4 linked regions of the Homo sapiens genome follow. The protein of the gene in region 1 interacts with the protein of each later gene in a biochemical or structural test. Each region holds a gene or a part of one and is shown in the gene's direction. Other genes may lie near its edges.

What was found.
Region 2: the proteins of OTUD5 (region 1) and SUPT16H form a complex in vitro, tested with the Homo sapiens proteins (one study listed by BioGRID).
Region 3: the proteins of OTUD5 (region 1) and TRPV4 interact in a test that uses a peptide from one of them, tested with the Homo sapiens proteins (one large-scale study listed by BioGRID).
Region 4: the proteins of OTUD5 (region 1) and SUB1 form a complex in vitro, tested with the Homo sapiens proteins (one large-scale study listed by BioGRID).

The regions. Positions count from the first base shown.
Region 1 is NC_000023.11:48,951,108-48,954,607, reverse strand, and holds part of OTUD5 (OTU domain-containing protein 5), read left to right. Parts: intron 1-3,500. UniProt on the Homo sapiens protein: Deubiquitinating enzyme that functions as a negative regulator of the innate immune system. Has peptidase activity towards 'Lys-48'- and 'Lys-63'-linked polyubiquitin chains. Can also cleave 'Lys-11'-linked ubiquitin chains (in vitro).
Region 2 is NC_000014.9:21,356,520-21,360,019, reverse strand, and holds part of SUPT16H (FACT complex subunit SPT16), read left to right. Parts: intron 1-410; coding exon 411-536; intron 537-1,592; coding exon 1,593-1,705; intron 1,706-2,017; coding exon 2,018-2,093; intron 2,094-2,653; coding exon 2,654-2,823; intron 2,824-3,500. UniProt on the Homo sapiens protein: Component of the FACT complex, a general chromatin factor that acts to reorganize nucleosomes. The FACT complex is involved in multiple processes that require DNA as a template such as mRNA elongation, DNA replication and DNA repair.
Region 3 is NC_000012.12:109,788,399-109,791,898, reverse strand, and holds part of TRPV4 (transient receptor potential cation channel subfamily V member 4), read left to right. Parts: intron 1-3,156; coding exon of another isoform or gene 3,157-3,182; coding exon 3,183-3,499; intron 3,500-3,500. UniProt on the Homo sapiens protein: Non-selective calcium permeant cation channel involved in osmotic sensitivity and mechanosensitivity. Activation by exposure to hypotonicity within the physiological range exhibits an outward rectification.
Region 4 is NC_000005.10:32,599,057-32,602,556, forward strand, and holds part of SUB1 (activated RNA polymerase II transcriptional coactivator p15), read left to right. Parts: coding exon 1-13; intron 14-1,948; coding exon 1,949-2,028; 3' UTR 2,029-3,500.

The DNA.
Region 1 (3,500 bases):
TTGAGCTCCTTGTTCTTGGTCCCTTCCTCCCATCATTAATTCTGGCACGATAAGCCATTTGTACTCAAGGGTCAGGACCAGTTATTTCTTCTCTCTCTGGTTGGGTAGTTTCTTTCCTCCTCTAGAAGCAGGGAGCCATACATCACTGGTCCTAGGGACAGAGGAAAAACATCCTATGCAGCCATGATAATTCAAAAACACCTCCTTACTCCCCTCCCTTGCGATACATCCCTGGTCCCAGGGACAGAGAGAAAGAACATCCTATGCTGCCATGGTAACTCAAAAACACTTCCTTATGCCCCTTGCAGTCCCTCCCTTATACTTGTCCCCATAAGAACATAAGAGTAAGCCGGGCATAGTGGCGCATGCCTGTAGTCCCAGCTACTCGGGAGGCTGAGGCGGGAGGATCACTTGAGCCCTGGAGTTCAAGACCTGCTTGGCAACATAGCGAGACCTCATCTTTACTAATAAAAAAAAAAGAATATGAAAATCAAGTTTTGTGGGTTCATGAAACCTGCCCTTCCCAATGACAGGAGAGGCTTTCTGTCCCCACACTTCTTAGGACAAAGAAGGTGATCCTCTTCTCCCTGCCTCACCTGGTCCAACTTGAGAGCTTTTGGGGATGAGAAGAGGGAAGATTCCTCCTGCCACCCCAGTCTTGGTCCTAAACTGTCACTAGGGGTGGTTGTAGCCTGGAGGTCAGTTGGATCCCTTGGGAAGAGAGGCGTCGTTGAGGGGGAGTCTAGATGGCGATTCTGGGGTTCTGACTACTTGGGCTTCCTCTTTGTCCTGATTCTCTTGTATCCCTACTTCCTTTAGGAGTCTTTTTGGCACTCTGGGGTCCAGGTGCTGGGTGGGTGGTGATGTCAGGGGTTCCCAGGCATGGCTGCCTTGCTGAGAGTCTGCTCTATGAAAAGGTTGGCCTGTAAGCATCCTGAGTTTGGAGACCCCACAGAGCTCTTTGAGAAGGGGCATGTGAACTGAGGTGGTGGAAAAAGCTGGGTGTGGCACGGTAGTTGGTGCCTGGGTTCCAACTCTGGGTCTTTCAAGGCTTTGCTGGATGAACCAGGGTAGGTTCTACCTATGCTCTCTGGGCCTCAGTTTCCTCACTGGCCAGGCAAAATGCTGGTGAGGTGTTGTTTAGCTTTGGGATTTTAGGGAACTCAGTCCAAAGTTCTCTGGACCTGGAGGTGGCAAAGAATGGTGGATGTCTTTTGAGGAGGAACTGGGTTTCTCCCCTCTCTTCCTGGCTCCTCTGTTCCCTCTCAGCCATCCAAGCTTGGTGGGCAGGACAAGCAGCCTGTTTTGTGTGAGGCTCAGGGTTGATGAACAGCCATTTTTTGTGGGCAGCCATGTTGTAATGAACAAGCTCGATGGGATTTCCTGTCAGGAGGCCTGTTGGATAGTGGTGTAGAGAGGTAGAGTTGTGTGTGGAGTTTGGGCTTTGGAGCAAGGCAAGCTTTGAGCCATCATCCCTCAATTCTCTCATCACCTCCAGACCTCAGCATCTCCTCCTTACCTGCTTTATAGCTTTAGGCAAACTACTTGCCCCCTCAGCTGCCCATTTTGCAAAAGTTTGTCCATGCCCAGGTGTGTCTGACCTTGCACACCTTGGACCTTGGCCGGTTCTTCCTCTTGCCCAGAATGGGCAGTTTGCCCCAGGGTCATCTTGGTTCTTCCTAGGAGCCTTTGTCCACTCCTAGTAACCTATCTTTGATAGCAAAGGCCCTTCATTTGGCATCTAGGAACCTGCTGATTTCTTGGGCTCTTCTTACCCCAACTGGAATTGGGTAGCTAGCTGGTGGGGAAGCAGGAAGGGGTCTCTGCCCAGGCAACGTGGATTTGAGTCCTGTTTCTGCAGTAAGCTTTTCTGTGGTCTTCAGGCAGTTCTCTTTTCTGGTTCTTGGTTTCTCCCTCCATGAAATGGGTAGTGTTGAGGAGGGAGGTTGGACTCATTGCTCTGAAGCAAGTTATAGTCTCCTCCCTGCTCCCACTCCCCTCACCCTTCATGAAAGTTTTAAGTGGGACCCCTTGGCCTTTGGGGATTGTGCTAGGACATTTCAAGCAGTGTTCAGCGTCCTTGGCTGGTGCTGAGCCCTTGGGTGTGTTTCTTTTAACAACTTTAATGAGATGTAATTCATGTACCATACTATTCACCTCTTTGAAGTGTACAGTTCAGTGGCTTTTAGTATATTCACAGATTTGTGCGTCCATCACATCACTACAGTCCATTTTAGAACATTTTCATCACCTTAAAGAGAAATCCAGCACTCTTTAGCTATGATCCCCCAATTTCCTCATCCCTTTCCAGCCTCTGGCAACCACTAATCTACTTTCTGGCTTGATTGATTTGTCTGTTCTGGATGTTTCATGTAAATGGAATAATAGAATATGCAGTTGTTTGTTACTTGGCTTTTTTCACTTAGCATAATATGTTCAAGGCTTATCCATGTTGTAGCATACATCAGTGCTTCATTCCTTTCTATTACTGAATAACAGGACCTTGGGTTTTTTTGTTTTTTGGTTTTTGTTTTTGTTTTTGTTTTTTTTTTAAGGTGGAGTCTTGCTCTGCTGCCCAGGCTGGAGTGCAGTGGCGCAATCTCAGGTCGCTGCAACCTCCGGCTTCCGGGTTCAAGTGATTCTCCTGCCTCAGCCTCCCAAGTAGCTGGGGCTACAGGCATCTGCCACCACACCCGGCTAATTTTTGTATATTTAGTAGAGATGGGGTTTCACCATGTTGGCAAAGCTGGTCTCCTGAACTCCTGACCTCAGGTGATCTGCCTGCCTTGGCCTCCCAAAGTGCTGGGATTACAGGTGTGAGTCACCGCACCCTGCCAATCTTAGAGGTTTTTAATCCCCCTGCCCTCAGTGGCCTAGCCAAATGTTGGGGCCTTGCTCTTCTCCCCTTCTGCCCTGGAGGGCTTGTGTTGGTCCTTAGAGAGTAGTGTGTCTATGTTCCTCGTTGGATGGGTTGCCTGTGTGTGTTTTTTTTTGAGATGGAGTCTCACTCTGTCCCCCAGGCTGGAGTGTAGTGGCGCGATCTTGGCTCACTGCAACCTCCACCTCCCAGGTTCACACCATTCTCCTGCCTCAGCCTCCCGAGTAGCTGGAACTACAGGTGCCTGCCACCTCGTCTGGCTAATATTTTTGTATTTTTAGTAGAGACAGGGATTCACTGTGTTAGCCAGGATGATCTCGATCTCCTGACTTCGTGATCCGCCCACCTCGGCCTCCCAAAGTGCTGGGATTACAGGCGTGAGCCACCACGCCTGGCCCCCTGTGTTTTGTCCATGGAGCCAGGCTAGTGTTCCTGGGTGCTTTGCTGGAGGGGGTGGTCTTGGCACCAGGGCTGCTGGGACAGAGCTGTGAGTCACAGAATGCTAAACACCTTTTGACCATAGGCTCTGGGAAGACATCTGTCCATGAACTGCCACTGCTGCTGCCATCTTTTGCCCCCCCACCCCACCCCCACTTCAGTGGCAGCTCATCCATCCATAGGC
Region 2 (3,500 bases), on another chromosome or scaffold:
TCTCACTTAAGAACATTTAAGAGGATTAAATAAAATAATGCCTCTAAAGGCCACAAGGCCTGGCATCTAGAAGGGGCTCATAAGCATGTTTGTTCCTTTGGTGTGTTATATGGTGGCCAGCAAATGTTTTATACGAGATCTCCAGATTTCTCTTTCTAAAATGAAGTTTTGCTTTAGATAAGATTTGTTACCAACATGATTTCCAAAGTTCCTGTAATAAGTAGGAGCACAGCACTTTTTCAAATGTACACTGTTTCCATTCCCAAGCATCATTATTTATGATGACACCAGGGGTGGTTTAATTATTTTTGCATGCATGCTGTGGAGGCCCAAGTTTGGATCACTGCCATTTCCATCACAGATACCTTTGTGTTTCTGACTTCTGTGTTCTTTCTGTTTTATGCCGACAGAATGCCATCATGTTTGGGAAGAAGCGGCACACGGATGTGCAGTTCTACACAGAAGTGGGAGAGATAACCACGGACTTGGGGAAACATCAGCATATGCATGACCGAGATGACCTCTATGCTGAGCAGGTTTGTGAAATTTAGTATTGTATTTGCAGGATAGTGAGGGAGGATGAGGCCAAATCCAAGCTCAGGGATTGTATTTTATAAACAAACTGGGCTGGCGTGGTGACTCGCGCCTGTAATCCCAGCACTTTGGGAGGCCAACATGGGCAGATCACCTGAGGGTCAGGAGTTCGAGACCAGCCTGGCCAATGTGGTGAAACCCTGTCTGTACTAAAAATACATAAATTAGCTGGGCGTGGTGGGTGGTGGTAGTCCCAGCTAGTCGGGAGGCTAAGGCAGGATAATCACTTGAACCCAAGAGGCAGAGGTTGCAGTGAGCTGAGATAGCGCCACTGCACTCCAGCCTGGGCGACAGAGTGAGACTCCATCTCAATAAATAAATAGCCAGGTGCAGTGGCTCACGCCTATAATCCCAGCACTTTGGGAGGCCAACACAGGCAGATCACGAGGTCAGGAGATCAAGACCATCCTGGCTAACACAGTGAAACGCTGTCTCTACTAAAAATACAAAAAAATTAGCCGGGTGTAGTGGCGGGCTCCTGTAGTCCCAGCTACTCGGGAGGCTGAGGCGGGAGAATGGCATGAACCTGGGAGGCAGAGGTTGTGGGCCAAGATCGCGCCACCGCACTCCAGCCTGGGCGACTAGCAAGACTCCATCTCCAAAAATAAATAAATAAATAAATAAACAACCCTGAATCTGTTTGTGCAGAGCAACTCAAGTATCTGCTGAGATAGGGTATTACAAGAGTTTAGGCTTAGGTTGCAGACTCAGCTTGACAGGTAATGGCATGGTGACCTTAAATATTAAAGGTGTATGTACATGTTAGTTTTATAGTTACGAGAGAATGAAGGGCAACGAAAGCACTTCAGGGATGATCTGTGCAGCAAACCACCATGGCACACGTTTACCTGTGTAACAAACCTGCAAATCCTGCCCATGCACTCCTGAACTTAAAAGTTGGAATTTTTATTTTAAAGCACAAAAGCACTTCAGACTTTTTGAGGGGAGGTACTGTTAACAAATGTGATGGCTGTATTTGATATTTTTTTCTTCTACAGATGGAACGAGAAATGAGGCACAAACTGAAAACAGCCTTTAAAAATTTCATTGAGAAAGTAGAGGCTCTAACTAAGGAGGAACTGGAATTTGAAGTGCCTTTTAGGGACTTGGGGTAACCTATCTTATTTTTGGCTTGAAGTTTGACTGGTCTGTCTTTTGGTACAATAAATTATTCTTCCTTTAATAATAATTTAACATATCATATCCTTTTTTCCTATGACTAATAATCTTTGAGACATCCATTTTTTCTTGAAAATGTTTAAGGGTTTAGGTGAGTGGCTAACTCTTAAGAGGCTTCCTCTGGATGAGTCTCCAGTGAGTATGCTGGAGCTGTTTGGAATGGGGAGAGGGAAGAAGTTTGTCTGTTGTGGTAGGAGCAGTCTCTCTCGTGATGAGCTCAGTCTTAAAAGTTTGTCTCTTCCAGATTTAACGGAGCTCCCTATAGGAGTACCTGCCTCCTTCAGCCCACTAGTAGTGCGCTGGTAAATGCTACGGAATGGGTGAGTGTTTCTTACTTTCTTTTAGTAAGAAAATTGTTAGAGAAAATAAAGAAGGATAGGTGTTTTTTATCCTAATTATTGTCATTTTCATTTTTGATATTTACTTAGACTTAAAACTCATTGAACAAATGTTACTTTTAAAGTCTCTTTAGGGCAGGCATAATGGCTCACACCTGTAATCCCAGCACAATTAGAGGCCAAGGTGGGAGGAACACTTGAGGCCAGGAACTCAAGACCAGTCTGGGCAACATAGCAAGAACCTATCTCTCTTTTTTTTATTTTTTATTTTTTAAGATAATGTCTTTTTAAATAGTTTATTTTAAATGGTTCCTTCACATAGTTTCCTTGAGTTTATTCTCCTTGAGGGATGATTTTTGTATCTTGCAGATCCTTTTTCTGTGGCTTCTTAGTATGTTGTACTGCCTCAGTCTTTCAAAAAAAAAACCAAAAAACAGCTTAAGTTATCTTTTATGTAGTGATTTAGATCATGAAAGTTATTTGAAATATTATTGCTTTGGGGGAAATACTTATATGCTAATGATTCAGTTTCTCCCTGACAGCCACCTTTTGTGGTGACATTGGATGAGGTAGAGCTGATCCACTTTGAGCGGGTCCAGTTTCACCTGAAGAACTTTGATATGGTAATCGTCTACAAGGACTACAGCAAGAAAGTGACCATGATCAACGCCATTCCTGTAGCCTCTCTTGACCCCATCAAGGAATGGTTGAAGTAAGTAAATCTGCCATCAGTCTCCCATTTAGCCCATGAGCCCTGTTTTATAGAATTTGAATGTGGTATGTTGTGCATAAAATCTACTGATATACTTAAAGTGAGACTGCCTTTTGGTTGTTACAGACCAGGACTTGAAAACTTGAGATCTATTAGATAACGGAGCTGTTCACTTTTTCTTGAATTCCCAACAATAGCTTGTGCATACTTAACACAAAGAAAATCAAAATCTAAGATCTTTTTTGTTTTCAGTGTTGCCCAGGCTGGTCTCAAACTCCTGGGCTCAAGCGATCCTCCCACGTCGGTCTCCCAACGTACCAGGATTACAGGCACAAGCCACTGCACCCAGTCAATGTAGAGCATATTTACAATAGCTTTTGAAGCATCCTTTTCTGCTCTTCACCCATTATCTTTATATTTTCTACATATTTTGTAGTGGTGGTGGTGGTGGTTGTTTGAGACAGGGTCTCACTGTGTTGCCCAGGCTCAAGTGTAGTGGTGCAGTCACAGCTCACTGCAGCCTCAAACTCTTGGATTCAGGCAACCTTCCTGCATCAGCATCCCAAGTAGCTGGGACTACAGGCATGTGCTACCACACCCAGCTAATTTTTTTTTACTAGAGATGAGGTTATTCTAGGATGCAGTCAAGTTAGTTGGATTCTGTTTGATCTTTCAAG
Region 3 (3,500 bases), on another chromosome or scaffold:
TTGCCTCCCAACAAGCCTGTAAGCTAAGTGCCTTTATTATCCCCTATTATAGAAAAGGAAACTGAGGCTTAGGAGGGTTAAATAACTAGCACAAGTTCAAAAGCCAGTGAATGGTGGCCGGGCGCAGTGGCTCACATCTGTAATCCCAGCACTTCAGGAGGCTGAGGCGGGTAGATCACTTGAGGTCAGGAGTTTGAGACCAGCCTGGCCAACATGGCAAAACCCCGTCTCTACCAAAAAATACAAAAATTAGACAGGCATGGTGGCGCGCAACTATAGACCCAGCTACTCGGGAGGCTGAGGCACAAGAATCGCTTGAACCCAGGGGGTGGAGGTTGCAGTAAGCCAAGATGGCACCACTGCACTCCAGCCTGGGCAACACAGCGAGACTCTGTCTCAAAAAAAAAAAAAAAAAAAAAGCTGGTGAATGGCAAAACTGGAGTATTAGCTATTGCTACAAAGGAAGCCACCTAAAGTGGGGCTTAAAATAGCACCCACTTATTATTATTATTTTTTTTGTGGCAAGGTCTCACTCTGTCACCAAGGCTGGAGGGCAGTGGTGCTCTTGGCTCACTGCAATCTCTGCCTCCTGGGTTCAAGCGATTCTCTTGCCTCAGCCTCTCGAATAGCTGGGATTACAGGCGTGTGCCACCACGCATGGCTAAGTTTTATATTTTTGGTAGAGATGGGGTTTCACTATGTTGGCCAGGCTGGTCTCGAACTCCTGACCCCAAGTGATCCACCCACCTTGGCCTCCCAAAGTGCTGGGATTACAGGCGTGAGCCACTGTACCAGGCCAACTTACTATTGCTTATGAGTCAATGGGTCAGCTGGGTGGCTGTGCTGCCCTGGGCCAGGTTTGGCTGATCCCTACAGGCTCTTGTGCCTGTGGTCAGCTGGCAGGCTGGCTGCTGGCTGACTGGTCTAGCTAGTATGGACTTGGTTAGAGGGGGTTTGCTATCTATCTTCCACATGGTCACTCATTTCTGGACAGCTAGCTTGGGCTTGTCCACATGGTGGCCTTAGGGTTCCAAGAACATGAGCAGAAGTGTTCAAGGACACCTCCTGGCATGGCATCACTGCTGCCTTACTCTGTTGGCCAAAGCAAGTCACAAGGCCAGCCTCGATTCAAGGGATGGGGAAATAGACGCCACTTCTTTTTTTCCATTTTTTTTTTTTGGTGGAGGCAGGGTCTTGCTATGTTGCCCAGGCTGGTCTTGAACTCCTGGGCTCAAGCAGTCCTCCTGCCTCAGCCTCCCAAAGTGCAGGATTATAGGCGCGAGCCACTGCACCTGGCCTAGACTCCACTTCTTAGTGGGAGAAGCTGTAAAGCCACATTGAAGGAGGATGGATACATGGAAGGATAAAATTTAATAATTAAACTAGCAGCCCAGGTATTTTCTTAAAGCCCAACATCAGCTCCCTTGATATACCTTCTTCGTGATGTCATGATGCCACTAAGAAGCATTCTGGGACCTCAGTGGCATGGGTCATGGGAGAAGGACCAGGGACCAGGGCTGGAGAAACTGACCAAGTCCTTGGGCTGATCCCCGAGGTGTGGGTAATCTGACATCAATGCCCAGCATCCAAAGGGGAATGGCCAACTCAGGTTAGACCTGGACACATACACATCTGAGCAGGTTCATCTGGGGACGAGCCTGGCACAGGAATCTGACAAGGGTGATATTTTAACCCACGATAGTGGCCAAGTCTCTAGGTAGATTATTGGTGGGAAGTGGAATTGTAGTTTTCACTGGGGAGATAGGGACAGGGTACAGCTTTCCCTTCCCAGGGATCACACTGGACAAACTAGACAGTGTCAAGGGTTCAACAACAGTTTGGGATTCAGGTCAGGGATCTAGCCCTACTGCAGTCCTAGTTATTGAAACTAAGGAGAAACAAGGGTTAGAGTAGCAGCTTAGCAGTCAGCTTGGTTGCAGGTCTTCTCCTTATAGGATGCACTAGATCTCAATTCTGAGGCTGACATGACATAAACAGGACACACATGCTTCTGTTCCCACACTTTGGTGTCCATAGCAGACATCACTAATGGATCACAGAACAGTTTTTCCGGTGAGTCCAGACAAGGTCTCAGAATCCTTCTCAACACAGTGTTTCACCAGGTACTATACAACTGAAGAACATTAGCATATGAGTTGAAATCTGCATACTCTAATCCCTGGTTGCAGGCAGTATGACATTCTGTGCCCCACTGACTGATGGGACTGAGTCTTCTTCATGCTCCCCTCCCTGGCTGGTTTAGGGACAGGTTGTTGCTGCCAAACTGTGTTGAGAAGGAATCTGAAGCTCCACCTGGGCTTAGTAGGAAAGGAGAACCATGATGAGTTTGAGATGTCTAGAGCAGGAGAGGCCCCTTAGAGAACACGGCTTTGGGGACAGTCAGGACTGATGCCTGGTTTCAGCCCCCACTTTTCCTCTCTGGGTTGGGGTGGAGTGGGAAACTGTCAGAGAGAGAGTCTACCCCTGCGAATAGGGGCATTCCAGAGCCCCCAAGACCTCTAAGAATGGTAGGCCGCATTAGGATTTCCCAACACTATTGACATTTGAGACCAGATCATTCTTCGTGGCGGGGACCATCCTGTGCATTGTAGGGTGTCAGGCAGCACCCCTGGCCTCCACCCACCTGATGCCAGTAGCACCCCCACCCCCAGTTGTAACAACCAAATATGTCTCTAGACATTGTCAAATGTCCCCTGGTGGGAAAAACTGAGACCCTCCCTGGACTAGATCCTGAAAACCTTTTCCCTCCCGGTAGCAGGGAACCACCAGGTTGTGTAAGGAGGGGTGAACTGTCCCAGGTTGGAAACAGAGCAGGTCAAAACTCCTACGCTTATCAGTAGTGGGATTGAGCCTGTGAGTAGCCACTGCACTCCAGCCTGGGCAACATAGCAAGACCCCATCTCAGAAAGAAAGAGAGAGAGAGAGAGATAACCTCTTCCTTATCAGCAAGAGTTTATGGAAAGGCTTCAAAGGTTTTGGGATCAGGAGGACCTGGGTCTGGTGTGGCTTGGCTGATGTGTAGGGTGACATGGGTCAGCGTGTGGGCCAGCGTGCTCCGCTCACTAGGCCTCAGCTTTCTCCTCCAGCAAATGAGAATGACACCCTCCACCTCTCTGTGGGTGTGCTCACACTCAGTGAGTGCCACCCCTATCCTCCCACAGCCCTGGTCTCCCTCCTGAACCCGTGTGCCAACATGAAGGTGTGCAATGAGGACCAGACCAACTGCACAGTGCCCACTTACCCCTCGTGCCGTGACAGCGAGACCTTCAGCACCTTCCTCCTGGACCTGTTTAAGCTGACCATCGGCATGGGCGACCTGGAGATGCTGAGCAGCACCAAGTACCCCGTGGTCTTCATCATCCTGCTGGTGACCTACATCATCCTCACCTTTGTGCTGCTCCTCAACATGCTCATTGCCCTCATGGGCGAGACAGTGGGCCAGGTCTCCAAGGAGAGCAAGCACATCTGGAAGCTGCAGG
Region 4 (3,500 bases), on another chromosome or scaffold:
CCAGGAAGAAAAGGTGAGGTCTAATTACTTGAATTTTATTACAGTGTTAGGACTAAACGACAACTTTTCTGAGTAGCTTACTTGAAATGTTGGCAGGACACACGGGGCAAGGAAGAGTCTTACTCAATTGATTCTCTATCTTCTGTAGTTATTTTGGACATGATACTTAACATTTTTTTAATGAGATGTCTTAATACAGCTTTTGGGAATAAAACCCAGAAAAGTAACACCCCTAATATCACTTCAGTTGGCTGCTAATTTACTTGAACAATTTTTAAAAAGGTTTATGCAATTCTGAAGCAGATTAGGCACTATCTGGGAACTTGTAAAATCAGGAATGGAAAATCTTGGTTTACAATGCTTCCTTTTGATTCAGCTCCTAAAAGCTATTCTTTAGGGCATTACTCTTCAAGCGGATCTCTGCTTTCCTTCCATTTGTGCTTCATCCAGTCCCAAGCCTCTTAGCATTGTAGAAACATATTTTGTATAATTCACCAAACAGCTAGAGAAGGTGAGCCAACCTAAATTTGTATATTTGGATTGCTGCTCTAGGTTGACCCTCAGCTAAAGAAAAATGCTTCCTTATTTAGTTTTATTCTGCCTGCCTGTTAGTTTGAAAGGTACCACTTGTTTGCTTCATGCAGTTTTTTTTTTTTTGGTTAAACTCAGCCTCTATATGTGTTTATATGCTTTCATATTTTCTTCAAGTCACTTCTGGATTGGTAATTCACGTACCAGAGTGGCCGATGCCATATTTCTTGTTTATTCTTTTTTTTCAATTTCATGGCCTTCCAGCAGTTTTCTGGGAATACTTTCTGCCAGTTCTTGTTTACTTCTCTGTTTATATGCGTCGGTATTGGAATGCTAGAACGTTAAAGTACAAAATATAGAAAATATAAAATTTCTGTTCATACTTTTACATCTTAAACTGGAAAGACATATCTCACATTTTTTAACCATTTATGTGTTAGGTGATATGCTAAGTTCATTATTCATGTTACTTAATCATTTACAACAACTCTTTGGCGTATAGATGCCATTTTACTGGTGAGGAAACTAAGGCTTACAAGGTGATGTAGTTCTTTTTTAAGGGTCATACACTTAGTGAAAGTGAGGCTGGAATTTTAACCCTGATAGGGTGACCCTAGAGTGCAGTTACCCGGGTATACTCTCTGAGGAGTCCTGTATGAATCACGTCCTGGGAATTTTTCCAAAGTGAAATGAATGCTTCTGGAAGAACTCAGCACAATTGGCTTGAATTCCTGTGGAAATTTTGGGCAAATATTGGAACCAGCTGGAAATATAGTAATGGGGTATCACATGCCAAATCTGGACCTGACCATTTTAGCCTGATAGTTGACGGGTATTAGTAAGATGTGTCTTCAAACCCTTATTTATTCTCATTGGTTACAATAGGTACTATGCAGGATGCACTGTGGAAAGTAAGACTGGATATGAGATTGATAATGCTCAGTAAATTGTGATGATATGTAATTAACAAATGTAAGAGATATGATTTTCAGTATTGTAGCATTGTGTCCAAGTGGCAATTTTTTTTTTTTTTTTAGATGGAGTCTTGCTCTCTTGCCCAGGCTGGAGTGCAGTGGCATGATCTTGGCTCACTGTAACTTCCACCTCCCAGGTTCGAGCAATTCTCCTGTCTCAGCCTCTTGAGTAGCTGGGATTACAGGTGCCCACCACCATGCCCGGCTAATTTTTGTATTTTTAGTAGAGATGGGGTTTCACCATGTTGGGCCAGGCTGGTCTTGAACTCCTGACCTCAAGTGATCCACCCGCCTTGGCCTCCCAAAGTGCTGGGATTACAGGTGTGAGCCACCGCGCCCAGCCTAAAGTGGCAATTTTGATAAAACAGTATTCTAGTTGGAAGTATGAAAATCCTCAACGCTTAAATAGATTTTCACCTTTGAATTTTTAAACTTTGTTTTAGGTATTTCTTTAAATCCAGAACAATGGAGCCAGCTGAAGGAACAGATTTCTGACATTGATGATGCAGTAAGAAAACTGTAAAATTCGAGCCATATAAATAAAACCTGTACTGTTCTAGTTGTTTTAATCTGTCTTTTTACATTGGCTTTTGTTTTCTAAATGTTCTCCAAGCTATTGTATGTTTGGATTGCAGAAGAATTTGTAAGATGAATACTTTTTTTTAATGTGCATTATTAAAAATATTGAGTGAAGCTAATTGTCAACTTTATTAAGGATTACTTTGTCTGCCCACCACCTAGTGTAAAATAAAATCAAGTAATACAATCTTAACTGTTGTGGCCTTTTTTGATCATAAGAGTTGGTACTGTTTAAGGCCAAAAGTAACAGTTTTTATAGATCTTTTAGTTTCAACTCAGCTTTTACAATAAAAAGGATTTGTATTGCATTGAGTTTATAAACTTTTGGTTTGTGAACTTCATATTTGATCTTTTCTCTTCCAATCAAATGTCTAGGCTTGTTTGACTTCCACCCCCAATGGTTTTTCACTCTTTTTATTTACTTCATTTTCCTTTAATAACTTAATCTCTTCATGTTCAGTTTTTACTTCACTCTTTATTCTTTTCTTTGATTATGGTATGCTTATTTGGAAAGTCAGTGAAACTGTCAAAATGTTATCTCAATAAGATACTTATATGAGAACTACAATCACCGAATCTACTGTATTCAATATTAGCAGATCTAATTTGATAAACAACATGGCTTGTGTGAAAACTGAGCAGGTGTTTGTTTACCCATAGTGTTCTGTGTAGTTATTGCTTAGTCTGCAGAAAATAATGACTTAGATGAGATGTCTGACTTGCTTTCACTTATTAAACATGTTCACCATGGGATGATGTCTGTAACATCAGATATTGTTCAACTAGACTAGGATTTAATAAAAATTGTGAAAGCTTACTGGCCTAACATTTTATTTTATAATATTGGGTATGAATTATATGTAGCCAGAGATGTCATTAAGCTTTACTGTTATAGTAGGTAATATGGTTAGTTTGTAGGGAAAAGAGCATATGAGCACATGCTTGTGTATTTTGGCCTTTGCCCCAGTAGAACAGACCAATGGCATTCTAGACTTGATGATACTAAGTTTTAGCAGACACTAGTAAGTGGTTTGTATTTAACCATACTGATGAAGCAGACAGATTGAGGCACAGATTTTAGTGGCTTTGTGGCAATAAATAGGGCATGGTGTGCCTTAGGAAAAGAATGTTTATAAAGGGAATTATAACTGAAATTAAAGGAGGCGGCAGTGAAGAGGAAATAATTCTCTTCTATCTAAATGATATACATATGATATTTTGAGATTTTTATAACAGCAGTGGAACACAATTCTAGGTAGAGTAGAAAAAGGAAAGTTTTAAAGACATATAAAAGATTCTTGTTGACAAATTATTTTTGGTAGCAAATCTCAAATGGTTACCTGCTATTAAGGTCTGCCATATTAGAGTTTTGCACTATTTTGCTACCAAGTTTGATTCATACATCTAAAACATTTT